Homo sapiens: one gene and its partners. The protein of the gene in region 4 interacts with the protein of the main gene of each other region in a pairwise test. Each region holds a gene or a part of one and is shown on either strand. Other genes may lie near its edges. The genes, in order: ZFYVE27, KDELR3, CLEC14A and TSPAN2.

The links.
Region 1: the proteins of TSPAN2 (region 4) and ZFYVE27 interact in binary tests that used the Homo sapiens proteins (3 or more experiments, as listed by UniProt).
Region 2: the proteins of TSPAN2 (region 4) and KDELR3 interact in binary tests that used the Homo sapiens proteins (3 or more experiments, as listed by UniProt).
Region 3: the proteins of TSPAN2 (region 4) and CLEC14A interact in binary tests that used the Homo sapiens proteins (3 or more experiments, as listed by UniProt).

What each region holds. Positions count from the first base shown.
Region 1 is NC_000010.11:97,732,057-97,740,334, forward strand, and holds the start of ZFYVE27 (protrudin), read left to right. Parts: upstream 1-5,071; 5' UTR 5,072-5,265; exon of another isoform or gene 5,266-5,269; intron 5,270-6,420; 5' UTR 6,421-6,421; coding exon 6,422-6,618; intron 6,619-8,278. UniProt on the Homo sapiens protein: Key regulator of RAB11-dependent vesicular trafficking during neurite extension through polarized membrane transport. Promotes axonal elongation and contributes to the establishment of neuronal cell polarity.
Region 2 is NC_000022.11:38,470,681-38,478,175, reverse strand, and holds part of KDELR3 (ER lumen protein-retaining receptor 3), read right to left. Parts: intron 3,654-7,495; coding exon 3,553-3,653; intron 1-3,552.
Region 3 is NC_000014.9:38,253,119-38,260,056, reverse strand, and holds CLEC14A (C-type lectin domain family 14 member A precursor), read left to right. Parts: upstream 1-3,963; 5' UTR 3,964-4,034; coding exon 4,035-5,507; 3' UTR 5,508-6,057; downstream 6,058-6,938.
Region 4 is NC_000001.11:115,086,472-115,094,904, reverse strand, and holds the start of TSPAN2 (tetraspanin-2), read left to right. Parts: upstream 1-5,401; 5' UTR 5,402-5,472; coding exon 5,473-5,541; intron 5,542-8,433. UniProt on the Homo sapiens protein: May play a role in signalling in oligodendrocytes in the early stages of their terminal differentiation into myelin-forming glia and may also function in stabilizing the mature sheath.

The DNA of each region.
Region 1 (8,278 bases), on a different chromosome or scaffold from region 4:
TGAGTCAAGTATGTGGGCCATAAACACACTTGCTTATTGAAGCAAATACTAACCTCTGCAAAATGTCAAGGTAAGATATTATCTTCAGTGATTATTTAATTTTCTCCCTTAGTCTCTTCTACCTGTCTGCTACCAAGGGGAAAACATCAGCAGCACCAGGAGTTGAGGCAGAATGCTGCAGGAGGGAAAGAAGGAACTAGAACTTGATTATGGAAAAATCAGAATTAGACTCGAGAGAGCACAGTCAAGCTGGTCCGTCTCTTAATTATAAGGGGAGGCCTTTATTCATCGCTACAGGCCACGACTATTGTCCCTTTCTGGTTTTTAAAGCCTTCTTGTATCCTCCAATGTTCCCTCCAGATAATGTCTAGAAATTCTTGAATAATATCTCTCAATTCTATAGCTGCTGGAAGAGAAAACAAATACTATTACTCTCCACTGTCAGACTGAGGCCAAGGAGGAGGAATTGCAAAGAAACTAAAATTTACCTTTGGAGTAAATTACCAGTGTGAGAATTTCAGGCACTTAGGATATATATATTATTATTATTTTTTCGAGACAGAGTCTTGCTCTGTCGCCCAGGCTGGAGTGCAGTGGCACGATCTCCGCTCACTGCAACCCCCGCCTCCTGGGTTCAAGCAATTCTTCTGTCTCAGCCTCCTAAGTAGCTGGAATTACAGGCACGCGCCACCACACCCGGCTAATTTTTATATTTATTTATTTATTTATTTTGAGACGGAGTCTAGCTCTGTCGCCCAGGCTGGAGTGCAGTGGCATGATCTCGGCTCACTGCAATCTCCGCCTCCTGGGTTCACACCATTCTCCTGTTTCAGCCTCCCCACTAGCTGGGACTACAGACGCCCACCACCATGCCCGGCTAATTTTTTTGTATTTTTAGTAGAGCCCAGGTTTCACCGTGTTAGCCAGAATGGTCTCGATCTCTTGACCTTATGATCTGCCCACCTTGGCCTCCCAAAGTGCTGGGATTACAGGCGTGAGCCACCGCGCCCGGCCTGATTTTTATATTTTTAGTAGAGACGGGGTTTCACCTTGTTGGCCAGGCTGGTCTCAAACTCTTGACCTCAGGTGATCTGCCCGCCTCAGCCTCTCAAAGTGCTGGGATTACACGTGTGAGCCACTGTGCCTGACCGGTACTTAGGTTATTAAAGAAAAAAATTTATTTTTCTTAAGAAGGGTGGGGACTCCTTAGCTTAAATACTACATTGTTGAACACAAAACTTTCCCCATCCTCTCACTTAGATTAAGTCTGCCTCTTCTCTCTGCTCCTACGGTTACAGTAGAATCCCCTGCTTTATATCATGGCTCAGTCAAGTCAGCGTCTTCTGTTGAACTAAGAGTTCATAGAGGGTAGAATTTCTGTCCAGTTCATTCTTGCTGGTTTCACAGTCATTGTTTTAAGAAATGATTCATGACCAGCCTGGGCAACATAGCAACACCTCATTCTACAAAAAAAAAAAAAAAAAAAAAATTGGCCAGGCACGGTAGCTCACACCTGTAATCCCAGCACTTTGGGAGGCTGAGGCAGGCAGATCACGAGCTCAAGAGATCGAGACCATCCTGGCCAACATGGTGAAACCCCGTCTCTACTAAAAATACAAAAATTAGCTGGGCGTGGTGGTGTGCACCTGTAGTCCCAGCTACTCGGGAGGCTGAGGCAGGAGAATCGCTTGAATCCGGGAGGCGGAGCTTGCAGTGAGCCAAGATCGTGCCACTGCACTCCAGCCTGATGACAGAGTGAGACTCCGTTTCAAAAAAAAATAAAAATAAAAATTAAGTAGCTAGGTGTTAGTGGTGTGCACCTGTAGTCCCAGCTCCTCTGGAGGCTGAGGCAGGAGGATTGTTTGAGCCCAGGAATTAGAGTGAGCTATGATTGCACCATTGCACTGCAGCCTGGGCAGCAGCAGAAGACCCTATCTCAAAAATAAAATAAAATTACATTAAAAAAGGAAAGAAAGATAAGAAAAAGAAAAAAGAAATGGGCATTGTTCTGGGGCTTTTGTTGAAAGAGATGTGAATTCTGTGCTCCAAGAGGAAACTGACACGCATGCGCTCATTCAAGGAACATTTGTTGGTACCTCCTTTGTGCTAGATGCTGGACACAGAAATTATAGGCAGTTCCCTCAGGACTCTCACTGTCTAGAGAGAGGAGGAGGCACCAAGTGCTGGGGTGGGGCAGGCCCACGGAGCCAAGTCAGAAGGGCACGTAATCCAGACAGTGGCTGCTGATGGGGAAGGTGTCAGAGAAGTCTTTCTTCAGGGGTGAGATCTGAGCTGAATTTTGGAGGAAGAATAAGAGCTGGCCAACTAAAGAATATGGGGCGCAGTGGCTCACGTCTGTAATCCCAGCGCTTTGGGAGGTCGAGGCAGGTGGATCACCTGAGGTAAGGAGTTTGAGACCAGTCTAGCCAACATGGTGAAACCCCATCTCTACTAAATACAAAAAATTAGCCAGGCATGGTGGTGCATGCCTGTAATTCCAGCTACTTAGGAGGCTGAGGCGGAAGAATCGCTTGAACCTGGGAGGCAAAAGTTGCAGTGAGCCAAGATTTCTCCATTGCACTCCAGCCTGCGCAACAAGAGCAAAACTCTATCTCAAAAAAAAAAAAAAAAAAAAGGTGAGAGTAGTCTGTAGAAAGGTACAGTAATGGGAGAAGGTGTGACATATCCGAGAACTGCCAGAGTTGAATACACCAGGCTTTGGTTTTATCCTGGAGGTCACAGGGGGCCACTGAAACTATCCACCAAGAGAGTGGTCTGAGAAAGGTACAGAGGGGTGGACAGGGTGGGGGATGGGAGTGGGTGGGGAGTGGCGATGGCCTATCCTGGAATTCAGACCTGAGGCCAGGTTAGGAAACGAAGAAGAGGGGCCTTCAGAGGCTATCTGCATGACAGACCCAGGAGCTTTCGGGGAAAAGACCCATCCTAAGGGAGGAGAGGCAGAGTCCAGCAGATGGGCCTGGACCACCACAAAGCTCAGTCCATTTCTCTAAGGGGTGGTGAGTGGATTTCTGTATATGGCTTAGTGATATGTGTGGGAATTGGATCTTTCTACATTTTGGCCTTTCGTGGATTCTTGTCTGATTTTTGGGCTAGGGGTGGTGGTGGTAGGGCTTTGAGTAAAAATAAAAATCACAATGATTGCTAACGATTTTTGAACACTTATAACATGTCAGGAATTTACATACTTTAGCTCATTTAATTCTCATCACAGCCCCACACTGAGGGTACCACTATGGTTATCCCCATTTTACAGCTGGAAAAACCAACCAAGCAATTCATCTGAGGAGAAGCCCTCCTACCTTACTTATGTTGGGACTGGCGCATGCCGGGTAATTGACAAAGTCAACTAAAGCAGGGAGCTTTGAGAAAAATACCTACACAGGGTAAGCATTTACTTTTGGGACAATCGTCAATTTATACATAGTTATAAGAACTAACACAGGGTGATCCCACAGACTACCCCCCAATGGTAACATCTTGCAACCCTTCTTAACAGAATGCCTACTATGTGCCAGGTACTGCTTTAGGTGCTGGAGACATAGACACGGGAAACGAAACATTAGCTGACAGAAGCCACAAGAGTGAATGAGATCCTCACGGAGTGCCTTGAGTCAGAAGAAAGAAGGGTAGCAAAAGGAGCCCCAGCATTTGAGGGGTAGGAAGAAAAGCCCTAAGGAGACCTTGAAGGTCGGAAAGAGAGGAGAGGGTGGTGTCATGGAAGCTAAGGTGGACAATGGTGCCAAAAAGGAAAGAGATTCCAGTGCTTCTGAGGTCATCTGCAAGGAGGACTGGGAAGTGTCCATTGGATTTAGCAGCCAGGATGTCACAGGTGAGCAGGCAGGTAGCCCAGAAATATGGAGGGGAGCAGGACCACAGTGCAGTGAGGAGTGAATTGGGCGAGGAAGCAGCGGTAGAGAGCACTTCACAGTGAGTCTTCCAACTCATGTAGGAAAGAGGGGGTAAAGTTAGGCTAAAGGAGAAATTTTCCATGAATTTTGTCTCTAGAATGATGATTAAGAGTTAGCGAGAGTCAAGATTTCAGGCCTGTTAGAGCAAAGCCCTAAGGAAATAAGAGTTGGACCCTGGAGCACAGCTAAGTCCTGGCTGGAGGGATGGGCCTGTCTTTCTGAAAGGAGATAATGGAGGAAGAGATGCAGTTAAAGCTCTGTGGCTACTTGAAGAGGGAAGTGATTACTTCCAGCTGGGGCACTCAAGGAAGGGATACAGACATTTGAGTGCCAGGGGCATTTGAGGGTAACAGTGGAGGGGTTCAGTTGGCCAAAGTTAAAGGCAGCTGAAAGATGGCAGGAGACAAGACCAGGAAATGCAGACCAAGGTGGGTGGTGGTATGGTTGGGGCGTTGGGGTCAGATGACACATAAGCTTCAAATTCCAGCTCCCATTTGCTTCTTAGCTGTGACTCTAAAGAAGTTCCTTAACACGTCTGAGATTCCCCATCTGTAAAATGGCGACAACCCTAATAGGGTCGTTGGAGGAGAACTAGATAATGTCTAAAAAGAGCTCAGTCCGGTTCAGTGCTTGGCTCCTCTGTACCTGAGCGCTAAGTCACTAATATAAAGCCATCGGATGTGTGCTTTAAGGGAAATTAACTGGGCCACACGGTGTGAAGTGAACTGAGCTGGGAGAGGCCTGCACAGGACCTTGTACACACTAGCTACTCCGGAAACAACTGCATGCTCTGCTGGGCATCTCATACAGGATACGGTGTCTTTCCGGGGCTCACACACAGTCCCCAGTTCAGTTCCAAAGTTGGAAGGAAAGAGGATGAAGACGTAAATTCTTCATTTAAGCCTCTCGCCAACTGTTCCCTGCGGCAAGGCAGGGCAACGAGCTGCAGGGTCGCCAAGCACGTGCTTCCAAGGGTCCTCAAGGCTTTGTGAACGGCGGCCGGCCAAGGACAGAATTAACTCCAGCCTGGAGCGCGCGGGAAAGACGCGCAGGCGCACTGCTGGCAAGGGTGCTTGCCTGTGCTGGGGTGGGCGGAGCTAAACCCGGAGCGGGATGACGTCATGAGGACGCAGCCGCAGAGCGATTCGCGTCCCGGAAGCGGCGGTGGCGGCCGCGGCGTAGGCGGAGGAGATTTTCGGACCTGCGACTTCCGAACAACCCTGGCAGGAGGAGCGGCGTTCAGCCGGGGGAGGCCTGAAGAAACGCTCCGGGGCCCAGTGGCTCTACCCCTGCTCCTGCCCGACCCTGCCGCCTCCCTCACGGAGCCAGCGGCCGGGTAGGTGAGGTGCCGTCCCCCCGCGTCCCAGTGTCTCCGCAGGCTGTGTGTAGTTGGGTGCTTGGGCGCAGCGGGGGCCGCCACATGCTGGCCCCACGACCTCGGGCATGGCCTTCCCTGTCCAGCCTCACGGGCTCCATCAGGCCCCCCTGGCTGCAGAGGTGTTGGCCAAGGCCAGTGCGGGCGTCGATATACCTCGCCCCTTCCTGGGCTCATACCTGGCGCCGCTCTGTGCCCTTTCGCCTTGGCTCGGCCTGCGGGGATTTCGGGGTCCCGTTGGCCCCTTTGTCCCATCCCCTCACCCTCCCATCAGGTCGCGGCTGATTGCCTGGGACTGGTTTATGTTGCTCTTCGCCGAGGTTCCGCCCCCTCGTTTGCTGCTTAGAGTTCAGGATAGGACTTTGAACTGGGAAAGACCGTAAAGGCTCCTCGGTTTCCTCATCAGAAAGGGCAGACGGGAATGGGGCGTTCTGATGCCGACTGCCCTGGGGCAGAGATGGCCCAGGAAGTTGTTGGGAACCGAAGGGAGTGGGAAGAGTTAGAGGATCGGGCGAGAGTCCTGGAGCACGGTATTTCATTCACTCATTCAGCAGGCATTTGTTAAGCACCCACTGTGTACAGAAGCAGTCGTGAATGGAGGCCAGTTAAGAGCAGGGAGTTTTACTTTGACGTGGTCAGTGCTCTGCACTTGATCTTAGCCACAAGGCCAAGAAGCGATGTGATGTGATAAGTGCTCTGTTAGGGTGAGTACGTGATCCTTTGGGAGCATCGGAGAGGGTCTCCCAGTCCAGAGTTGGGGGTGTTGGCAGAGACTTCCCAGAGTAAGGGAGTGATGTTTAAGCTGATACCTGAAGGATGAGTAGGAATTAACCAGGTAAAGAGTGGGAGAAAAATGTTCCAGGACATCATTTCATTTCAGCCCATGGGCTGCCTCGCTGCAGCGATCATTTATGCTTGGTTTTTATGATTTTTAGTTTTGATGGATCTTTGGGGAAAAGAGCATTGGATGGAGAGTACAAAGAACAGGATTTTAGGTCTGAATAGTTCACTTTCCCTTGCTCACAGGTTTACTGTTGGCACCACCTGAATCTGTAGGTAGAATTGTGTTGAGGACTAGACGTGCAATGCAAATGTTGGGAATTATTATGGTTACAGGATGCAGACATCAGAACGTGAGGGGAGTGGGCCGGAGCTGAGCCCCAGCGTGATGCCCGAGGCTCCCCTGGAGTCTCCACCTTTTCCTACCAAGTCCCCAGCGTTTGACCTTTTCAACTTGGTTCTCTCCTACAAGAGGCTGGAGATCTACCTGGAACCCTTGAAGGATGCAGGTGATGGTGTTCGATACTTGCTCAGGTACAGACTTTGTGGAGTTGCTCTGGTCTGCTCTGCCTTCTGCCGTCCTGCTCTGTAGTAACTAACACTGACCATTTAGGCAGTGGCTGGGCTGTCCTTTCTGCCCTAGTGAGGAGCAGTTCTGGGAGGTCTGTTCGGCCTCTGGGTTTATCTAGGCCTACCCTGTGTCTCAGGCCCAGCCCAGGAGAGGCAGATACTGGGAATGATCCTGCCTTTCAGCAAGGTTCTTCTTTGTGACTGAATAAGCTCCTTCCTCTGGACTGCTGGACAACCTTGAACATCACGCCTTCTACAGCTTAGAGCAGGCTTAATTTTTTCCTTTGCCCCCAATATTAGCATAATTAATATTAAAAAATTAGGGTATAATTTTGAACAAAAATTAAAGAAATACAAAAACCTGTGAATAAGCAGATACCATTTTCACTACTTTTTTTTTTTTTGAGACAGAATCTTGCTGTATTGTCCAGGCTGGAATGCAGTCGTGTGAACATGGCTCACTGTAGCCTCAGCCTCTTCAGCTCAAGCGATCCTCCTACCTCAGCCACCATGCCTGGCTAATTAAAAAAAAAAAAAAATTGTAGAGAGGCTCTCACTGTGTTGCCCAGGCTGGTCTTGAACTGTTGGGCTCAAGTGATCCTCCTGCCTCAGCCTCCCAAAGTGCTGGGATTACAGGTGTGAGCCACTGTGCCCAGCCCATTTTTACTAATTTATTGAGATTATGGATCTTAACTTTTTCCCTCCTATCCTGCTTTGATTTTCATTCTCTATAATTTTCATTTTTTCTTTTGACTCATTTTATTATGTTAAAATTATTTTAAATTACTTATATGGCATTCTACTCCCTAAATATGTCAGTTTTTATCTCTAAATAAGGACATTTCTTTCAAGATCAAAGTAACACCATACCTAACAAAATTAATAACTCCTTGATATCATCCTATACTCAGTTCATATTCCATTTCCTCAGTTGTACCATCTCTTTTGGCTAAATCACATTTCAGTCCAGGAGTGTGCATTGTTTGTACTTATTATGTCTTTTAAGTCTTTTTTCAGTCTAAGACAATCTCTCTCGTGACATTGATTTGCTGAAGAGACTGAGCCTGAACTGACTTTCCTGGAGAATTTACTACCGAGATTTGTCTGGTTTCTTCCTTGTGGTGCAGACTAGAAGTTAGATTTAAAGGTTGGATTTGATTGAAGTTAGAAAAGTGTTTTTTTTTTTTTTTGCAAAGGTAAATGTTGTGCCCCTGGTGTTGCATTGCATCAGGAGTCACACAAAAACCTGATTGTCCTAAAGAGCAGAGGTTTTTAACTTGGAGCCTATGGGTGAGTTTTAGGGATCAGTGAATCCCCTGAAACTGCATGTAAAATTATGTGTCTGCACATGTGTGTATTTCTAGGGAAAAGCTTCTGGTTTTCATCAGATTCTCATAAAGACCCTCAGTCCTCTGAAATACATGAGAGAGACTGGTAGGAAGCAGGGTGAGTGGAGTTACGTTAACCTCTGAGGATGCCATTGAGTATTTATCCATGCCTCAGTCTGGAAATAGTGGATGTTTTGTTACTAGTTCTCTGGCAAAGGCCCTACATTTTTCTTGTTCACCTAATTTATGTCTGTATCCGTAGAGGTGAGCTAGTCAGTGTTCCAGAGCTGTGTTCT
Region 2 (7,495 bases), on a different chromosome or scaffold from region 4:
CTCCTATTTGGAGTTATTTCCTCGAAGCAGTCTTTTTTTCACTACAATGAGGCACACATTCTGTCGCCATAGCTCCATGTGAACATACTCATTTTAGCCCGTGATCACATGCTCTGTAAATGTCTAGGTACAAGTCCATCTCCCCTCTAAGAGAGGACTCCGTGGCAAGGTCCACCTCCTAATCCCCAGCTCCTAACTCAGTCCCTGGCACAAAACAAATGCTGGAATGAGTGAATGAGGTGGTCACTTTTTCATTTCATAAATGTAGAAACTAGCCTCTTTGAGCTTCCTAGACCTCATTCAGCTATGGCAAGGGCTGAGTCTGCTGTCTCTGCCAGGAATGCCCAAGGCTGACTTGGGCTGAGAAATGAACTAGCAGGTGATGTTTGATACATGTGTGAACTTAAGTAGACGGTGATTTCCAGTCCTCAGATTCACATTCACTAAATCTGAATGAGTTCAACACCTCACAAGTAACAGCAACCTCCACTCTACCAACTAGTAACAACATGCCTGAAATCCCAAAGGGATGTCTCTGATATGGAAGAAAAGGACAACTCACTTTAGTTAAATATTTTCTAGGTGCTGTATGTTATCTCATGTGATCTTCTCAATAGCCCTGCAAGATAGAATTCCCCCATGGAACCCTTGTTCCTTAGAAATAAGATTCCTAGGCCAGGCACGGTGGCTCTCGCCTGTAATCCCAGCACTTTGGGAGGCCGAGGAGGGTGGATCACGAGGTCAGGAGTTCGAGACCAGCCCGGCCAACATAGTGAAACCCCGTCTCTACTAAAAATACAAAAATTAGCCAGGCATGGTGGTGTGCACCTGTAATCCCAGCTACTCAGGAGGCTGAGGCAGGAGAATTCGCTTGAACCTGGGAGGCGGAGGTTGCAATGAGCCGAGATCACACCACTGCACTCCAGCCTGGGCAACAGAGGGAGACTGTCTCAAAATAAAAAAGACTGGGCATGGTGGCTAATGCCTGTAATCCCAACACTTTGGGAGGCCGAGGTGGGCAGATCACGAGGTCAGGAGACCATCCTGGCTAACATGGTGAAACCCCGTCTTTATTAAAAATACAAAAAAAAAAAAAAAAAAGTTAGCCAGGCATGGTGGCACACATCTGTAATCCCAGCTACTCGGGAGGCTGAGGCAGAATCTCTTGAACTTGGGAGGTGGAGGTTGCAATGAGCCGAGATCGCGCCACTGCACTCCACCCTGGGCGACAGAGCTAGATTCTGTCTAAACAATAAATAAATAAATAACTTGAACCCGGGAGCAGAGACTGCAGTGAGCCAAGATCGTGCCACTGCACTCCACTCTGTCTCAAAAAAAAAAAAAAAAGGGGGGGCCAGGTGTGGTGGCTCACGCCTGTAATTCCAACACTTTGGGGGGCCAAGGTGGGCAGATCACGAGGTCAGGAGTTTGAGACCAGCCTGGCCAACATAGTGAAACCCCGTCTCTATCAAAAAATACAAAAAGTAGCCGGGCGTGGTGGTGGGTGCCTGTAATCCCAGCTACTCTGGAGGCTGAGGTAGGAGAATTGCTTGAATCCAGGAGGCAGAGGTTGCAGTGAGCCGAGATTGCACCACTGCACCCCAGCCTGAGCCACAGTGCAAGACTCCATTTCAACAACAACAAAAAAGAAGACTCCTGGCCGGGCGCAATGGCTCACACCTGTAATCCCAGCACTTCGGGAGGCCGAGGCGGGCAGATAACAAGGTCAGGAGATCGAGACCATCCTGGCTAATAAGGTGAAACCCTGTCTCTACTAAAAATACAAAACTTAGCTGGGCGCAGTGGCAGGCGCCTGTAGTCCCAGCTACTCGGGAGGCTGAGGCAGGAGAATGGCGTGAACCCGGGAGGCGGAGCTTGCAGTGAGCCGAGATTGCCCCACTGCACTCCAGCCTGGGCGACAGAGCGAGACTCCGTCTCAAAAAAAAAAAAGACTCCTAGCTGATCATGGTAATTCCAGAACTTCGGGAGACTGACACAGGCAGATCACTTGAGCCCAGGGGTTTGAGACCAGCCTGGGCAACATGGTGAAATCTTGTCTCTATTAAAAATACAAAAAAATTAGCCAGGCATGGTGGTGCGTGCCTGTAGTCCCAGCTACTCAGGAGTCTGAGGTGGGAGGACCCCTTCAGCCCGGGAAGTTGAGGCAGTGAGCCATGATCGCACCACTGCACAAGAAATAAGATTCCTATTAGATAATGTGTCCAACTAAAATCTACATCTTGGCTGGGCATGGTGGCTCACACCCATAATCCCAGCACTTTGGGAGGTCGAGGTGGGTGGACCACTTGAGGTCAGGAGCGTGAGACCAGCCTGGCCAACATGGAGAAACCCTGTCTCTCCTAAAAATACAAAAATTAGCTGGACATGGTGGCACATGCCTGTAGTCCCAGCTACTTGGGAGGCTGAGGCACAAGGCAAGCTCCCGGCTTGAAACCAGGAGGTGGAGGCTGCAGTGAGCTGAGATTGCGCTGCTGCACTCCAGCCTGGGCAACAGAAAACAGTGAGACTCCGTCTTAAAAAAACAGAAAGAAGGTGTGTCCTTTGATCTTTACATGGCTGGTTCCTTGTTGTCACTAAGCTGTCAGCTTACATGTCATCTCTTTGAAGATGCCCTGACCACACTCCCTGAAGTAGCTCTCTAATCCTTCTCTATCACCTAAATAATTTTTTTTTTCTTGAGACGGGATCTCACTCTGTTGCCCAGACTGGAGTACAGTGGCATGATCATGGCTCACTGCAGCCTTGATCTACCAAGATCAGGTGATTGTCCCACCTCAGCCTCCTGAGTAGCTGGGACCACAGATGAGCACCACTACGCCCAGCTAAATTTCTTAAATTTTATGTAGAGGCGGAGTCTCACTGCATTGCCCAGGCTGGTCTCAGACTCCTGAGCTCAAGCGGTCCTCTCGCCTTGGCCTCCCAAAGTGCTGGGATTACAGGTGTGACCCTTTATTGAATGTTTAATATATGGCAGGGTTTTTTACATTTACATTTATTATCTCATTTAATGTTCCCAACCAAACCCTCTGAGCTAAGTAATGGTACTGTCTTTTTTTTTTTTTTTTTTTTTTTTTTGAGACAGAGTCTCACTCTGTCACCCAGGGTGGAGTGCAGTGGCGCGATCTCGGCTCACTGCAACCTCCGCCTCCCAAGTTCAAGCAACTCTCCTGCCTCAGCCTCCTGAGTAGCTGGGACTGCAGGCATGAGCCACCACGCCCGGCTAATTTTTTGTATTTTTAGTAGAGACAGGGTTTCACCTTGTTAGCCAGGATGGTCTCCATCCGCCCGACTCGGCCTCCCAAATTGCTGGGATTACAGGCATGAGCCACAGTGCCCAGCCCTGTCCTCATTTTTGCACGAGGACACTGACATACAAAGAGGCCCAAGATGAGGTCTTGCAGCCACTAAGCAGCAAAGTCAGGATTCAAACCCAGGTCGGCCTGGCTCCACAGAATGAGTTTCCAAGCAGGCTACCTCACAGTTTGTGGGGGCTTGGTGGCTTCCCCCAACCATCATCACCCAGCCCCTCACCTTCATTACTGTGTTGTAGATGGAGATGAAGTTGGTGAACAGGTCCAGGTACCTGGTGGTGAAGACGAGAGCAAACAGGATCTGGCTCTTCCCAGAGATGCCTGTGGCCAAGGGTAGACAGGAGACAATGAGGACACAGACTCCCAAGCCTGCCCACCCTCAAGAGGTGCACAGCCTGGAGCTGGGGAGGCCTCTAGAGTGTCCACTCCCACTCAAAGACCTCCTGTCCAGGGCACTGTCGCTCCCTAAGGGCCAGGAAACTCACCCTTCCCATCGGATCACTTGAGTCGTCGTTCCTCTCATTAAACTGTAATCTGTCTCCCAGTCTCCAAATAAAGACACGAACACCGAGTTCCCAGTCCCCCTGCGTGTGCCTGCCTGGGCTCTTGCTCTGGGGAGGATGTCGGGGGTGGTGTGAGTCGGGCTTGGTGGGGGTTGTTGAGGCTTCTCTTCACTCCACCCCCAGAGTTCCACTGACAGTCCCCAAAGCTCAGTCTTAGGAGGAACAACTCACTGACTTTACAAGGTGTTGATTCACCAGGGAGACCAGAGCAGGCAGAGGAAGGTTCAGGGCCAGGGGAGCATTCTATTTTATTTTTCAAACTGTAAGATTTAAAAAGCCTTTTTTCTTTTTTCTTTTTTCTTTTTTTGAGATGGAGTCTCACTCTGTTGCCCAGGCTGGAGTGCAGTGGCGTGATCTCGGCTCACCACAACCTCTGCCTCCTGGGTTCAAGTGATTCTCCTGCCTCAGCCTCCGAAGTAGCTGGGATTACAGGTGCCTGCCACCACGCCTGGCTAATTTTTGAATTTTTAGTAGAGACGGAGTTTCGCCAGGTTGGTCATGGCTGGTCTCAAACTTCTGACTTCAAGTGATCTGCCCGCCTTGGCCTCCCAAAGTGCTGGGATTACAGGCATGACCCACCACGCCCAGCCAAAAAGCCTTTTTTCTAGTTACAAAAGTTATGCCTATATTTACTCTTTGCAAAACAAAAATCAAACAATATACAAAGATGCAAAGATAAAAATATTCCAAACCCCTAGTGTTCATCCTTCCATATCTTTGTGAACATGTACACACATGACACCTATGTGTACACATATGATGCACATGGATGCACTGAGTTGACAAAAAAGGGTTCATACTCTCCATGATGTTTCTTTCTTTTTTATTTTTTTCTTTTTAGAGAAAGGGTCTTACTCTGTCTCCCAGGCTGGGGTGCAGTGGTGCAATCATAGCTCACTGCAGCCTCTATCTCCTGGACTCAAACAATTCTCCTATCTCAGCCTCCCGAGTAGCTGGTAACTACAGACACAAACCATCAGACTGGCAAATTTTATTATTAATTATTATTATTATTATTTTTGTAGAGACAGAGTTTCACTATGTCGCCCAGCCTGGTCTCAAACTCCTGGGCCCAAGTGATCCTCCTACCTCATTCTCTCAGTGTTGGGATTATAGGCGTGAGCCACCGCGCCCAGTCTAAATGCTGTTTCTTGACCCACTTTGGTCTCTTTCTTTTTTTAACTTTTTATTTTGAAAGAATGTTAGATTTACAACAGAGTTGTAAAGACAGTACAGAGAATCCCACATATCCAGCTATATCTAGTGTTAACATCGTATTTGGGCCGGGGGCGGTGGCTCATGCCTGTAATCCAACACTTTGGGAGGCCGAGGCGGGCAGATCACCTGAGGTTGGGAGTTTGAGACCAAGCCTGACCAACTTGGAGAAACCCCATCTCCACTAAAAAATACAAAATTAGCCAGGTGTGGTGGCTCATGCCTGTAACCCCAGCTACTTGGGAGGCTGAGGCAGGAGAATCGCTTGAACCCAGGAGGTGGAGGTTGCAGTGAGCCGAGATCGTGCCATTGCACTCCAGCCTGGGCAACAAGAGCAAAACTCTGTCTTAAAAAACAAAACAAAACAAAACAAAAAAACATCGTATTTAGTGACAGTACTTTATCAAAACAAAGAAATCAACATCAGTAGAGCACTGTTGACTGAACTCCAGGCTTTATTCTGATTTCACCAGTTTTCCCACTGCTGCCCTTTTTCCATTCCTGGATTCCATCCCGGAATCCATGCTGCATTTTGTTGTCATGCTCCTTAGTGTCCTTTGGCCACTTTTTATTTATTTATTTATTTTTTGAGACAGAGTCTCACTCTGTCACCCAGGCTGGAGTGCAGTGGTGCGATCTCGACTCACTGCAACGTCTGCCTCCCGGGTTCAAGTCATTCTCCTGCCTCAGCCTCCCGGGTGGCTGGGATTACAGGCGCCCACCATCATGCCCGGCTAATTTTTGTGTTTTTAGTAGAGATGGGTTTTCACCGTGTTGGCCAGGCTGGTCTCGAACTCCTGACCTCAAGTGACTGCCCACTTCGGCCTCCCAAAGTGCTGGGATTACAGGCGTAAGCCACTGTGCCCGGACAGCAGTCTTGGTTATCAGATGGAAGAAACAGTATATATATAGGGTTTGGTTTAACCCGTGGTTTCAGGCATCCACTGGCAGTCTTGGAACATATCCTCCGTGGATAAGGGGGAACTACTGTGCTGTCTAATTCAGGGTCTGGTTCCCCTGTACCCCTGAACTGTGCCTTCTCTAACCATCCCTCTGGTTCCAGACATTTGGGGTGGGAGAACATTTTTTTTTCTTTTTTTGTGAGGCAGGGTCTCACTCTGTCACCCAGGCTGGAGTGCAGTGACACAATCACAGATCACTGCAGCCTCAACCTCCCAGGCTCGGATGACCCCCCTACCTTAGCCTCCTGAGTAGCTGGGACTACAGGCACATGCTACCATGCCCAGCTAATTTTTATATTTTTTCTAGAGACAAGATTTTGCCATGTTGCCCAAGCTGGTCTCAAATTCCTGGGCTCAGGTGATCCTCCTGCCTCAGCTTCCCAAAGTGCTGGGATTACATGGGTAAGCCACTGCACCCAGCCTGGGGGAACATTTTTAATGAGCAAGAAGGAACACCCCTGAAGTCCCTAACATTCTGGAGAATGTGCTGGCTTTAGGGCGAGCCTCGGTCTCACATTCCTCACCTGCCAAACGGCCCCTCATGCAGAGTGGCAGGACTGAGCTGAGGAATACACAGTGCTCAGTGAGAACCTGAGTCCCTCTGGGGGGTCTAGCACGCGCGCACGTGCACTAGCCGGGGTGAGGGCAACAGTGGGGCTGGCAGTGGGTAATGAACCCCACTGGGGGAGGCCATACTGACCTGAGGCCAGCTCTGGGATGGCCTGATGTTCATCTCACTGAGCCCTCACACAGACTTTGACAGAGAAGCCCTCAGCCCCACGAAGGACTGCCTGGGAGGCAGCCCTGGTGGGGGACGCTTGGTCACCCGCTTGGGCCTTCCCCTACCCCTCTTTTCTCTTCATCCTCAGCCTGCCAGTCCCCTGGGTTTTACTCACATTTTCCTTAGCACTTTGGGAACCCTTGTGATCTTCAGTTTTGTTTTGCTTGTTTGTTTGTTTGAGACAGAGTTCTGCTCTTGTTGCCCAGGCTGGAGTGCAATGGTGCAATCTCAGCTCACTGCAACCTCCGCCTCCCAGGTTCAAGCGATTCTCCTGCCTCAGCCTCATGAGTAGCTGGGATTACAGGCACCTGCCACCATACTCAGATAATTTTTTTGTATTTTTAGTGGAGACGGGGTTTCGCCACGTGCCAGGCTGGTCTTGAACTCCTGACCTCATGTGATCTACCCGCCTTGGCATCCCAAAGTGCTGGGATTACAGGTGTGAGCCACTGTGCCCAGCCCCCCGGTGATCTTGAGCACAATAGTTTTCACACTTTTGAAAACAATCATTTCCACCAGGAAGCTGCACATGGAGACCCGGGACACAGAGGACAATGTGAGCCTGGACTGGCCAGAGTCCCTCCGGGGTCCACTAAGCATAGGTGGACCCCACTGCCAGGGGCAGCCCTCACTCCCATTTGA
Region 3 (6,938 bases), on a different chromosome or scaffold from region 4:
GGAGAGAGGTGACTCCACTACTAGGACTTTTCCTGGGCCTTAGGGGCGCTCCCTCTGATCACTGACACCATGCCTACATTTCTTTTGTTAGGTGTTCTGAGCCACAGGGATTCATCTAGCAGAGGCCATGGCAGAGACATGGACCATACCTTTTTCAGACTGTCCCTGCAAAGGGAGGTATGTCCTGCTCCTTTGCCAGCCCAAGAAATCACACATCTTACCCTTCTTAGTGCTCTGAGAATGTGGGCTTCTCCCCTACTTGAGTGCTGGCCAGTGATCTTGGTTCAGCACCGCAGAACTATGTGCTGTAGTCCTGGGGAGCCAGGACCGGCTCATGGCTCCATCCTCCGGACCCTTGGGCTTAGGTTCTAGGTGCGCTAGGGTATCTGAAATGCTCCCAGGCCACGAGGAATGCACTCAGGTGGAGCAAAATGCCCAGGCTGGGTAAAGAAAATGTGGCACATATAAAGCATGGAATACTTGCAGTCATAAAAAAGGATGAGTTCATGTCCTTTGCAGGGACATGGATGAAGTTGGAAACCATCATTCTCAGCAAACTAACACAAGAACAGAAAACCAAACACCGCATGTTCTCACTCATAAGTGGGAGCTGAACAATGAAAACACATGGACACAGGGAGGGGAACATCACACACCAGGGCCTGTCAGGGGGTGGGGGGCTAGGGGAGGGATAGCATTAGGAGAAATACCTAATGTAGATGACAGGTTGATGGGTGCAGCAAACCACCCTGGCACGTGTATACCTATGTAACAAACCTGTATGTTCTGCACATGTACTCCAGAACTTGAAGTATAATAATAAAATAAAGAAAATATACTGAAAATATATTTTAAACATAATTAACATTTTGATTTTATTTTTACTTTTCATTTTGAAACTCAACCACTCAGAATTAAATTAATTTTAATTCCTGCTTCATGTCCATTCACTTATTTATCCAGATATAGCCATTTTGATTTATTTGTTCATTACTAATTATTTATTTTTAATAATGGAATAAAGATTCCATTATTTGGGTAGTGACACAAAGCCACTGCACAAAACAAAAGCTAGGACTCTATCAACAGCCCATATCAAGCCTGCTAGTTCCCCTAACATTCCATCCTTCTCTTTCCTCTCACCCAAAAGGCGCATCACTAAGAATCTTATGTTTATTGTTTCTTTTGTCTCATTTTATTGTAACTATTTTTCTAAAGAATACACAAACATATATCTAGTACTGTTCTTTTAATTGTATAAAAATGTCAGACTCTGTATCGTTTTTGGAACTTCTGTCCATTAACATTGTATTGCTAAAATAAATTCATATTGTTACTTGCCACTATATTGTACTAATTTTTACTCCTATATAATATTAAATTAGTGAATATACTACAGTTTATTTTTATACTGTTTTTGGATATTTTGATTGATTCAACGTTTTGTTAATATGAATAGTGTCACTATAAACATTTTTTACATATCTTCTGTTGTACATGTGCAAAAATTTCTCTTAGTTTTATACCTTATCATGGAAGTGCTAGAGTTTGCAAATATTCAATTTTAGTGAAAAAAAGTGTCAAATTTTTCCAAAGTGGTTGCTCTAATCTGTAACATGTAAAAGAGCCAATAGATTCACATTTGGTATTATAAGATTTTTAGGCATTTGGAATCCAGTGGGGGTAAAATGGTTCTATATTATTATCTTAATAAATATTATTAAAAAATAGAAACTTTCCTCCATTTCTAATTTGGTCAGATAAACTGTCTATTTCAAACTAATTACAAAACTATTTACGTCCTACTTTGAGCTAATTTTTTCTAACTCTTGTGTCATTCCATGATATGGTCATGGTCATGGTCAGTACTCTCATATAGTCGTTATGGCCAATGTGTTCTCTGCTATAATCCCACTCCCCTAGACAGAATGTCAGGGAGTGAGATCATGTATTTACTTAAGCTTTCCAGCTATTCATTCTTTCTTACTGTAGACACCTCATCTCATCCCAAACGATTTTTAAAGCTATCTAAGAAATTTCCATTGACTACTTAAGTTTGAAAAAGATTTTATTAAAAATATTGCACTACATGGACACATTTACAAACACAGTCATAAGATTGCAATGGTCTATAGAGAGCTGGCCCAAGTGACTAAGTATTTTTTAAAAACCATTCAATTTGATTTCTGGATTTTCATGTTTCTTTCTTATAAGACACTAAGTTACCTAATTTAAACGCAAAGCCACGTTTAAGGTGATTCTCAGACATCTGAAGGAAGGACTAAGGAATGTTCTTTAAATTGGGAAATAGGGCAGGAGAGAAATCCTAGTGCAAAGCTCCATACTCAGCAAAAGCAAGGTAAGTATGATGATGACTCATAGGCTTACTGTTGTTTGTTAAGATACATGGAATTTCCAGGAGGAAAGAAGAATGAGAGTTATGGTAAAAATAAGATGGAAGCATACAGATGTGATCCTGAAACCTTCCCTCCCACCCCTCATCAACCTGAATGCAGTAAAACAAAGTGAGCTTATATGCATTATCCATGGAATGGCAACTTTCATTCTGATTAAAGATATTTAAAAGCATCAGACATCTCTAAGAGGGCTTAGCTGAAACTCTCTATGTATTTCTGATGGCAACGTATTTGGCCATTATGAACCAAGATAGAATGTACGTTTTCTAAACTGATACTGAATTGTCTAAGTTGCTAACAAGAAATCCTTTCATAACAGTACAGTTTTTAACCTTTACTTCTTTATTCATCTTTAATTCCTTGCCACTTCCCACTGAGTTGAAATGTTTATATTAAAACAAAACACCCACTGGAATTCTAAAGAAATTGGCTCACCCATCTTTCAAATTACAAGATATTTTTTGACAGTATACAATATTCATTATAATGGAATAAACATTTTAATTTCTTAAGGAACTCTAATTTTCCTTAAAGGAGATGTTTACAACTTACTATTATAAATGCTGCCACTCAATCATAGGAGAAAATGATACTAAAATAGTTCAAGGCTAAAATCACACATAGGGCAGTTGTTCTCGAATATTTATAAGGCCACGAACTCATTTATGTATAACCTATAAACTTGAAGAATTTTTGAACCAATACAGTGGCAAGGAAAGCTAACAACCTAACTGTTAAGATCTATGGTCATTATTTTTCATTTAGTCCTAGAAATACATTTCCTTTCTGTAATGAATCAATATGGTCTAACTCAAAGAGAAACACGTGGAAGTGAAAAATAAATTTCTAAAGCAAGTGCTGATGGAAGAAGCAGAATTTCCCATTTAAAATACCCAAACAACTCCAAATTCTTTAGTAGTTAGGACTCCTGAAATCTCTTGACATAATAGAGAAGCAAAGACCCATAGAGAGATATGCGGTTAAATAGTGCTGCCTCTGGTGGCAAAAGCAGTTGCTAAGTTGTTTCACAACATATTTTTCCCCCACAGGCACAGGCCCCCCAAACACTGGAGCCGTCTACGAATTATTCTGACGCTAACTCCACAGCTCCGGACAGAAACACAATAGACGGGCGTGGTCTTATAATCATAAGCCAGTTCCTTTCTCAAGTCCTTCCTGCCTATGTTCGCTTACGTGTTATGGGTTCTGCGGTCCTGATGAAACTCCCTGAACGGAGAAAAACCACACACTTCATCCCAGTGGCGAATTTCTCCTCTTGCTCTAAGCAGGGTGTTTGACCTTCTAGTCGACTGCGTCCCCTGTACCCGGCGCCAGCTGTGTTCCTGACCCCAGAATAACTCAGGGCTGCACCGGGCCTGGCAGCGCTCCGCACACATTTCCTGTCGCGGCCTAAGGGAAACTGTTGGCCGCTGGGCCCGCGGGGGGATTCTTGGCAGTTGGGGGGTCCGTCGGGAGCGAGGGCGGAGGGGAAGGGAGGGGGAACCGGGTTGGGGAAGCCAGCTGTAGAGGGCGGTGACCGCGCTCCAGACACAGCTCTGCGTCCTCGAGCGGGACAGATCCAAGTTGGGAGCAGCTCTGCGTGCGGGGCCTCAGAGAATGAGGCCGGCGTTCGCCCTGTGCCTCCTCTGGCAGGCGCTCTGGCCCGGGCCGGGCGGCGGCGAACACCCCACTGCCGACCGTGCTGGCTGCTCGGCCTCGGGGGCCTGCTACAGCCTGCACCACGCTACCATGAAGCGGCAGGCGGCCGAGGAGGCCTGCATCCTGCGAGGTGGGGCGCTCAGCACCGTGCGTGCGGGCGCCGAGCTGCGCGCTGTGCTCGCGCTCCTGCGGGCAGGCCCAGGGCCCGGAGGGGGCTCCAAAGACCTGCTGTTCTGGGTCGCACTGGAGCGCAGGCGTTCCCACTGCACCCTGGAGAACGAGCCTTTGCGGGGTTTCTCCTGGCTGTCCTCCGACCCCGGCGGTCTCGAAAGCGACACGCTGCAGTGGGTGGAGGAGCCCCAACGCTCCTGCACCGCGCGGAGATGCGCGGTACTCCAGGCCACCGGTGGGGTCGAGCCCGCAGGCTGGAAGGAGATGCGATGCCACCTGCGCGCCAACGGCTACCTGTGCAAGTACCAGTTTGAGGTCTTGTGTCCTGCGCCGCGCCCCGGGGCCGCCTCTAACTTGAGCTATCGCGCGCCCTTCCAGCTGCACAGCGCCGCTCTGGACTTCAGTCCACCTGGGACCGAGGTGAGTGCGCTCTGCCGGGGACAGCTCCCGATCTCAGTTACTTGCATCGCGGACGAAATCGGCGCTCGCTGGGACAAACTCTCGGGCGATGTGTTGTGTCCCTGCCCCGGGAGGTACCTCCGTGCTGGCAAATGCGCAGAGCTCCCTAACTGCCTAGACGACTTGGGAGGCTTTGCCTGCGAATGTGCTACGGGCTTCGAGCTGGGGAAGGACGGCCGCTCTTGTGTGACCAGTGGGGAAGGACAGCCGACCCTTGGGGGGACCGGGGTGCCCACCAGGCGCCCGCCGGCCACTGCAACCAGCCCCGTGCCGCAGAGAACATGGCCAATCAGGGTCGACGAGAAGCTGGGAGAGACACCACTTGTCCCTGAACAAGACAATTCAGTAACATCTATTCCTGAGATTCCTCGATGGGGATCACAGAGCACGATGTCTACCCTTCAAATGTCCCTTCAAGCCGAGTCAAAGGCCACTATCACCCCATCAGGGAGCGTGATTTCCAAGTTTAATTCTACGACTTCCTCTGCCACTCCTCAGGCTTTCGACTCCTCCTCTGCCGTGGTCTTCATATTTGTGAGCACAGCAGTAGTAGTGTTGGTGATCTTGACCATGACAGTACTGGGGCTTGTCAAGCTCTGCTTTCACGAAAGCCCCTCTTCCCAGCCAAGGAAGGAGTCTATGGGCCCGCCGGGCCTGGAGAGTGATCCTGAGCCCGCTGCTTTGGGCTCCAGTTCTGCACATTGCACAAACAATGGGGTGAAAGTCGGGGACTGTGATCTGCGGGACAGAGCAGAGGGTGCCTTGCTGGCGGAGTCCCCTCTTGGCTCTAGTGATGCATAGGGAAACAGGGGACATGGGCACTCCTGTGAACAGTTTTTCACTTTTGATGAAACGGGGAACCAAGAGGAACTTACTTGTGTAACTGACAATTTCTGCAGAAATCCCCCTTCCTCTAAATTCCCTTTACTCCACTGAGGAGCTAAATCAGAACTGCACACTCCTTCCCTGATGATAGAGGAAGTGGAAGTGCCTTTAGGATGGTGATACTGGGGGACCGGGTAGTGCTGGGGAGAGATATTTTCTTATGTTTATTCGGAGAATTTGGAGAAGTGATTGAACTTTTCAAGACATTGGAAACAAATAGAACACAATATAATTTACATTAAAAAATAATTTCTACCAAAATGGAAAGGAAATGTTCTATGTTGTTCAGGCTAGGAGTATATTGGTTCGAAATCCCAGGGAAAAAAATAAAAATAAAAAATTAAAGGATTGTTGATAACCCAGACTCAAATATCATTGCCTTCCTCCAGGAGTAATTAGGAACAGCTGAGGGCATGCTGGGAGTAAGCAGCAAGAGTGCATTCTGCTTTTAGATTGAGGGAGAGGTCCTTAAGTTCCTCGAATGAGACACAGATCTTTAAGAACTAGTAACTTTTTCATTGATTCTTTTATCCTTTCTTTTCAAAGTCACTGCTACTTGTGTGCTTTGCTATAAATCGAAAGTGTAGTGTTGCCAGAATTGCTGGCTCTGGAAGAAAATTACAGTTGACCACCAGTTCAAGTGTTTACTTTATGTCCATGCCCAAGGAAAACACATAATTTGCGTTTTCCCTTTCCAGTGTTTGTGCTTTCCAGCGTAATGACCTCCCCAAGCAAATAGCCCTCTCCTGAACATCAAGATGCTCATCCTCATCTTCAATTATGGTGATGTTAATTCTCAATTAAAATGTTAATGCTAAGTATTGATTTGCAATCTTCTGGTTGCATCAAAGAAAAAGTAAGCTGGTTTTCCTCCAAAGTTGCTAAGTTCTTGTGCATTTTTCAACCCATGGAAAAACTTGAACACCAAGCCATTTTCTTTTTCTCTTGATAAGAATGTGTGCAATAACAATACTTGCTCATTTTGGAGTGATTATAATCTTACAAGTGTTTACATGGGCAAAGGCATGGTAAACAGTTTACCATAAGAAATAATAGTATAAGAAATAAGTGACAAATTTTAAAAAATCTATCATCTTGTTATAACTGGGGGGTATTAGAAAGTAATCTAAATGAAGCACTCCCATGAAAAATAATTAAGACATAATAAAAATCACTGCCTCGTGGAATCAAAGTCCCTAGAAGATATCCCACTTTTATTAGTACGCTGAGACTTTAAAACTAAGAGTGTGGGGGTTGGTGCATGCAGAGAGGCAGAGAAACAAGCTTAGTAACAGGGAGGAATGAAAACAGAAGCTTACACTTTATTTTCACAGAATTATTTTAATG
Region 4 (8,433 bases):
GAAAGGCCAAATGGAATTTTCAGCTGATTTAATCATTAAAAATAGTTTAATAGCAAGAGTGGGAGCAAGGGCGGGAGGTGCCATGTTCTTTTAAACAACCAGATCTCACAGTGAACTCAGAGCAAGAACTCACTCATTATAGGGAGAATGCCATCCAGCCATTTATGAGGGATCCACTCCCATGATCCATACCTCCCACTAGGTCCCCCCTCCAACACTGGGAATTACCATATCAGCATGTATCAGTGTGTGAATTGGGGCACATAATTCAGAGGGGCTTTAAAGAATTGATTGTCATTGCTATAAAAACATCTTCCATCTTTATCTACTTATTTGTCTAAACAGAGTTTTTCAACATTAATATCAAAACAATGAAAAATATTAAGGGAATTTATGGTCAGCTTTGTGGTTCTAGCAATAATATTCGTTCATGGATATATGAACTAGTAGAAAAAAAAATACCAACCCCATCAATATCATTAAGAGATGCATTTCCAGCAATATTTTACCTTTAAGTTTAGTGACTGTTTATTTAAAACTATATTTTAAATTTAGTATACAATTTTAACCACTTGGATACCAAAAATAATTTTAACAGTAACTTAATCTAGAAGAAGTTTGTCCAACCCGTGGCGGATGGTTTTGAATGCTGCCCAACAAAAATGCATAAACTTTCTTAAAACATTATGAGTATTTTGTGATTTTTTATCTCATCAGCTATCATTAATGCTAGTGTATTTTATGTGTGTCCCAAGACAATTATTCTTCTAATGTGGCCCAAGTAAGCCAAAAGATTGGACACCTCCGATCTAGAAGAACTTAGTTAACATTTACAGCCTTATGGTCTCAGGGGAAAAGTTTAATTTCTTTTAATAAACATAGTAAATTTTGTTCAGACAAGTATAAAAGGACATTCAAGAAAAATCATTCAAGCATAAACATGCATTAATTTAGGATGACATTTTGTAAAACGGAAATACAAGTTCAAGGAGCAAAAGGAAAGATTAAAATTTTCACCCTATTAAAGAGGAGCTTGCTCATGTATTTTTAATTATTTATTTATTTATTTATTTTTGAGACATGGTCTCATTCTGCCACCTAGGATGGAGTGCAATGGTGCAATCTCAGCTCACAACAGCCTAGACCTCCCACGCTCAAGTGACCCTCCCACTTCAGCCTCTGGAGTAGCTGGGACTACAGCGAGCACCACCACACCCTGCTAATTTTTTTCATTTGTTTTGTAGAGATAGAGCCTCACTATGTTGCTCAGGTGGTCTCAAACTCCTGGACTCAAGTGATCCTCCTGCCTTGGCCTCTCAAAGTGCTGAGATTACAGGCGTGAGCCATCATTCCTGGCCTTGTTTATGTATTTTTTAATCGATGATAATAGGTAGCAGATCATACTGGCATTCAGTTTCTACTGGATGTATTAAAATGAGTAATGTGGCCATTTGATTTTAAAAGTCAATATTTAAGACACACCAGAAATGACATCTCTGAAAATATTCAAACTTATAATAAATAATTTTACCTGCAACTTAAAAATGTGTGAGGGTAATACTATACAATGCCATTTATATGAAGGTTTAAAACAGGCAAGTGTAATCTATAGTGAAAGAAAATCAGAACAGTGTTTGCCTTTAGGAGGGATGTGGGCATAGATTGACTGGGAAGGGTTATATGAAAGCCTGAAAGCTTCCTGGGGTGACAGTAATATTCTATATCTTAATAGGATTCGGGGTTAGAAAGGCAAAAGCATTGTCAAGAATTATTAAATAATATACTTAAAATGTGTACATTTCATTGGGGTAAATTTTAGAAAAATAGTAAATAGATATTTGAACTCTAGGTAATGTTATGCATGCTCAAGAGTTTAGGAGTGAAACATACTGCCTACAATTTATTTGGAAATAAATAAAAAAAAATAGATTGAGAAATGGACAGATGTATAGATAAGTAATGCAACCAAAGCAAAATGTTTATTGTAGCATCTAGATGGTGAGTATATGGTGCTCCTTGCCCAACTATTTCAAATTTTTTGTACGTTTGAAAATATTCATAATAAAATATTGGGAAAAAATGCAAGAGAAAATATTTTTGTAACTATTTTAGGGCATGTGTGGGCAACAGTTTTAAGACCACTGGCTTCTATTTATCACCATTTGCTGAAGAATCTTTACCCTAAACTTACCATCCAAACCTTTCTCCAGAATCCAATCATATTTCCACATCATCTGGATTTCCCACCATATCTAAAACTCAGCAGATCCAAAAATGAATGTATTGTCTTCCCTCTACCAGTCAGGAATATCTTTAGCTACATGTAACAACACAAAGTCAAACAAAAAGAGGGTTATTTTTCCTATATAATAAGAAATGTGGAGTTAGGTAGCTGCTGGTATTGGTTCAGCAGTTCCACAATGTCCTAGCTGGAAGGTCTGCAATTGTCTTGCCCTTTCTTCATAGTCACAAAATGTTCTAGCACTTCAAGCATCATGTCTGAGTTCAAGACAGGAAAAAGAGAAAAGGGAGCAATGCCAGTGACAGTTTAAAGGCTAACTTCCTTATTATGTCATTTAATGTAGCCCTGTACTTTCTTATAGTAATATACCCTTGAAAATGTATGGAATGCCTTTCAGGCACAATACATACATATATGTTGATGATGGCAATTCCTCATGTTGGAAGTGGGACCTTGTGTGAGGTATTGGATCGGAGTGGATCCTTCATGAATGGCTGGATGCCATCCTCCCTATAATGAGTGAGTTCTTGCTCTGAGTTCACATGTGATATCTGGTTGTTTAAAAGAGTGTGGAACTCCCCACTTCTTTTGCTCCCACTCTCGCTGTGTACACACTGGCTCCCTGTGACCTTCCACCACAACTGAAAGCTTCCTGAGGCCTCACCAGAAGCAGATGTCAGCACTATGCTTCCTGTACAGCCTGCATAACTGTGAGCCAATTAAATCTCTTTTCTTTAGAGATTACCCAGTCTCAGGTACTACTTTGTAGCAACACAAGAATGGACTAACACACATGCGTCCACACACATACACATACATGTACACAAAAACCTAAACCTCAATTGGCTTCAGAAATGGCTAACTCAGTTATGGCGTAATATCACCTATGACTCTGGTTTTTTCAACTTCCTGCTTTGCTGTTTTCAATGTTGGATCTCTCCTCAGGCTGGTATGAAGATGGATATAGCAACTCTATGTATACCATCCAGATCCAACAGCTTCAAGAGGAAGAAGACCATCTGGCCCCTCAGTAGACACCACTCCCATCCCATTAGTCAGGATGCTTGTCAATTTGTTTCCTGAACTAACTACAAGGGAAATGGGATTACCTTCGCCTATTCCTCTCAAGGGTCAGCTTCCCTTAAGACATACAACTTTGTGAAAGGGCGACTGGGCAAGTCTATACTAAAGATCTGAAACTGTTATGTTGGACAGGCAACCACCATCTGTCTCTAATACATGTGTGCTAAAATCGTAGCATGAAAAAAACAAACAATAGATGTATATGTTACAATAGGGGTTCTCTTCCCTCTATATAATCTCTAGACATATTTTGTCTTAGAGATGTAAAATTCAACGATATATTTAAAGTATAATATCATTGTTCATTCAGTTGATTTACTGAACGCCTTCTATGTACCAGACACTACTCTTTAACTTAGTTCTTTTCCTTTATACTAAAACAGAGGTGACAGATATAGAACTATAAGTGTTTGATTGAAGCTAATGATTCACTTCTCTCTGCATACCTAATGACTTCCATCTTTGTCTTTATTTCATTGTTGGAGACATGTTTATTACTAGAATCAGCACTTTCATTTTTCTGTCTTTGACTCGTTTTTATAAATGAGTCGATATTCAAACAAATGTCCAAAGACACAGAGGTAGGCAAAGATGGCAACATGGTAGAAACTGAATGGTTGACTGATAAGAGTGTGATACAATAATACTAACCCTTATGCAGTACTTAATCTGTGCCAGGCACTGTTCTAGGCACTTCACAAATACTAACTCATTTATCTTCACAACTCTATGAGGGGAGTACTATTACCTCCATGTTGCACGTGGGGACACTCGGGGCCAATGACAGTTTGGCACATTGGTCAGCCGACTGAAAGCTGTGATTTGGCTCCTGCCTTCCTGACTCACTCTGCCCCCACCAGGCTTCACTCGGGCTAACTGCGGTTCTCAGAACTCCCTTGGAGGCCTTGTTCTCTCCAGCTCTGTGCTTTTGCGCATGCTGTCTTCCTGGACTGATCTTTTCCGCCTGGGCTCCGTCTTCTAGACCAGATCAGGCCCCTCTCCTTAGCAATGCCTTTTCTGGTTAAGGCAGTCAGGCCAGGCACACCTGTCTAGCACCCAGCCCTTCTCTCCTCACCCTATTTGCTTACAGATCTGTCTCCAACACCAGAGACTGTGGTTCTGGGCCTGGCTGTCTCCTCATTGTTGAGTCCCTGGGGCTTGCTACTATGTCTGGCCTATAATAGGCACTCAAAGTTTTGCTGAATTTATGCATAAGCTCTCCGAATTTTGCTTTCTTGTCTCCCCCATACTGTCTGACACCACATATTGTAGACACTTAGTCAATGGAAGTGGGAGTCTGATTTTCCTGCCAACAGCCTAACTTAATAAAAACAAAGCAAAACAAAAACCGCCCCCTTCCCCTTTCTCCCATCTCCACATCATAATTAAGATCCCGAAAATTTGGGATCCTTCCAAGCCCTCCGATCAGTGGAACCCGGCAGGACATGAGAAGTCAGACTCCCTCCACTGGCCGGCTGGGTTGAGGGCAGCCCACAGGACTCAGGGCGCCGCCTCCCGCACCCTCTCTCAGTTCTTGCCTATTAAGGTAAGAGTCCCCCGAGGAGGGGGGAGGGGCCGGAGGGAGGGTCCCCTAGAAGCTGCTTGTGTGCTTGCTCCGCGCCGCGGAGCCGCAGCCCTGGACACTCAGTCAGGTGCCCCGCGACTGGTCCTGCCAGCTTCGGGGCAACCTCCGACCCCACTTAGCTCTTCTACCCGAGGTCACCTTCCTAGATTTCCATAGCCACGAGACCAAGTGCTTATCCCTCAAGCATCGCCCGGGCCTCAAACCGGTCTCCGCACAGGGCGCTGATTAAATGGGTCCCCAGTCCCCGGTGGGCGCTCCCGCCCTGCAGGTGCTCCGATAGCCGGCGGCGGTGCGCCCACTGGAGGGAAGGAAGGTGGTCCCTGGGTCCGGGAGAAGAGCGAACGTGCTCCCTCGGGCTGCTCGATCTCCACCCGCTGGCGCCCCCACCCGTCGCCAGCCACGCCGCTTGGGGTCCACGCGCCCCTCCCCGCCGGGCCCCGCCCCGCCCCCCGGAGGCCCCGCCCCGGTCCTCCCCGCTCCGCCCCCTCCCCGCCGGAGCCTGCCGCTCCCCGCGCTCGTAGCGCGGGCCTGGGGACTGGGGATCCCGCCGCCGGGCCGCAGCATGGGGCGCTTCCGCGGGGGCCTGCGGTGCATCAAGTACCTGCTGCTTGGCTTCAACCTGCTCTTCTGGGTGAGACCAGGAGCCGGGAGGGCCGGTCAGGGCAGGGGGCCGGGTGGCGGGCGCGGGGCCGGGGTCCCCGAGCTGCTGACTGCGGCGTCCGAGTCGCGCTCGTGGGGAGGGCTGGGTGCTCAAACGCGGAGGCGAGGAGAAGGCAAACAAAGAGGGAGGGGAGGGATGGAAGGGAGAGAACGGGAAGACAGAAGGTTGATCAATGAGAAATGGTGAGAAGGGGAGAGACACCGTGTGGCTCTTTCCTGGAAGGAACCCCCACCTGCCTTGGTTTTTATCTCCCAGCTAGTGACCCCAGGTGCGGGGACCCAGCCTCTCCTCACCTCCGGAGGACTTGGGTCCCTGTTCCCCTCCAGTCTCCCGTGCACACACCCCCTTTTCACTCTGCCTACCAGCTGGAACCAGGGCCTGGCCAGGGTGATGGGAGAGAAACCCCTGCCCTGGGGCTGCCTGGGGTGGTGCTCCATTCGAGTGTGTGGACACTGTACCTGGCTGTGATGGTTTTGTTTAGGAAATTGGAGATAGGAGTGAAAATTGTGGTGGGGGGGCGTCGTCCTTTTTCTGGGCATCAGGGTAAGAGTACCCCTGGGTGAGAGGAGGTGGTGGGTTCTCTTCTGAGAAGGGGATGGGGAATGGAAGGGCTTCTAAAGGGCAGCAGCAGCTCTCCACAACCCCCAGCCGCAGCCTCTGCTAAATACTAATTCTCCCAGAGATGATCTCATTCAACTTTGCAGGGTTTGATTGAACTGACAGCGTTCCCAGGATTCATGGTTCACAGAGAGATAGGATCTTGACCCTTGTCTCCTATATTATCGAGACAGGGATACAGCTAGACCAGACCTACATCCCTGGATACCCTGTCCCAGGGCCTGCAGGACTGTGAGACAAGGTCTGAAAATTGTCTTTTCTGCACATTTCCTCTTGGGCTTTCTTAAGAGAATGTCAGCCAGTGTAACTGCTCAGCTAGACCCTGAGGGGAAACATTGGATAAAGAGGTTTGAGAGCAGCCAGGGCCTGGGTGCTTTGAAACTACCAGGTTGGAGGAGGTGGCTGTCCTATCTGCTCTGGGGGACGTTGTCTTCCCATGATTGCAACTAATTAATTATTGAATGATGGGCTCCTCTTTTGTCTGTCAATCCATTAGCCCAGATGCCTGGGTGACTTCAGCAACTCCAAGCTCTTCAGTATCCTTCAGCAGTGGAAGGTGTGAAGGAGGTACCTCCTCGACATCCCCTGAACTTTAAAGAGACACATGGCCTTTGTACACGTGGGGATTTACATCAAGCATACTATAGGGAGAGGCGTTTCTGAAGACCCTTTATGTTGTATTTTTTAGGAATCTGGCTTAATTTCAGAAGCTGTTAATTATAGATGTCACGCCACAGTGACAACCTTCATTCTCACTGCTTATGAATTCAAAGCCTTATGAAGTTTTAAGCCTGAGGAGGAATTCTTAAGCTGGGTTCAGTGCTTATTTAGTGGCTGATATTGTACCAGCCTTTCCAGTGATAGCTGGAAGGATTCATTGAATGTTTTCAATGTGTCAGGGACAGTGCTAAGCATATTACTTTCATTATTACACATAATCCTCACAAGAGTCCTGATATACATATACTATTATTATCCCCATTTTTTACAGATGAGGAAACAGGCTCAAATTGGTTAAGTCACCTAAGATCACACAGCTAGTGAGTGGCAGGGATGGTATTCAAACTCAGCCTACCTTCTCTTTTTTTTTTTTTTTTTTTGAGACGGAGTCTCACTCTGTAGCCCAGGCTGGAGTGCAGTGGCCCGATCTCCACTCACTGCAAGCTCCACCTCCCAGATGCACGCCATTCTCCTGCCTCAGCCGCCCAAATAGCTGGGACTACAAGCACCCTCCGCCACGTCTGGCTAGTTTTTTTGTATTTTTAGTACAGACGGGATTTTACCGTGTTAGCCAGGATGGTCTCCATCTTCTGACCTCATGATCTGCCTGCCTCAGCCTCCCAAAGTGCTGAGATTACAGGCGTGAGCCACCGCGCCTGGCCGCCTACCTTCTCTTAAGCACTGTGGTACATTCAATTAACCAGTGGTTCTCAAAAGTGGTTCCTGGGCCAGCAGCATCAGCATATCCTGGGAATTTGTCAGAAATACAAATTCTCAGGCCGGGCACAGTGGCTCATGCCTGTAATCCCAGCACTTTAGGAGGCCAAGGCAGGCGGATCACCTGAGGTCAGGAGTTCGAGACCAGCCTGGCCAACATGATGAAACCTCATCTCTACTAAAGTACAAAAATTAGCCGGGCATGGTGGTGGGTGCCTGTAATCCCAGCTACTTGGGAGGCTGAAGCAGAAGAATCTCTTGAACCCGGGAGGCAGAGGTTGCAGTGAGCTGAGATGGTGCCACATTGCACTCCAGCCTGGGCAACAAGAGCGAAACTCCATCTCAAAAACAAACAAACAAACAAACAAAATTCTCAGCTCATCCCAGACTTGCTGAATCAGAAACTCTGGGGGTAGGATCCAGCAATCTAATTTAACAAGCCATTCACATAATTCTGATCCATGCTCAAATTTGAGACCCATTCTGTTAAACAATGATTAAACAAATAATAATTTATAAATATAAACACAGTTCCCTAAGCTGCTCATCTCATTGAGGAAACGAGACCAGTGGATATGGAACAACACAAAAATAAGACAGTGTGGAATCAAGTGACAAGTTTCACACTGTTGACCGTAAGCACAGTAAGGAAAGGAAGTAGGAGCAGTGCAGTTTTAAGTGCTTGAATGTGTTAACCAGTGAGGTTAGATCCGACCTTCTCTATATGTGATCTAAGTAAGGAGTTTAGAGAAAGGATCACAGTCATGATGAGGAGCCAGAAAAGTTCTCCTTAAGAAGGAGCTATTC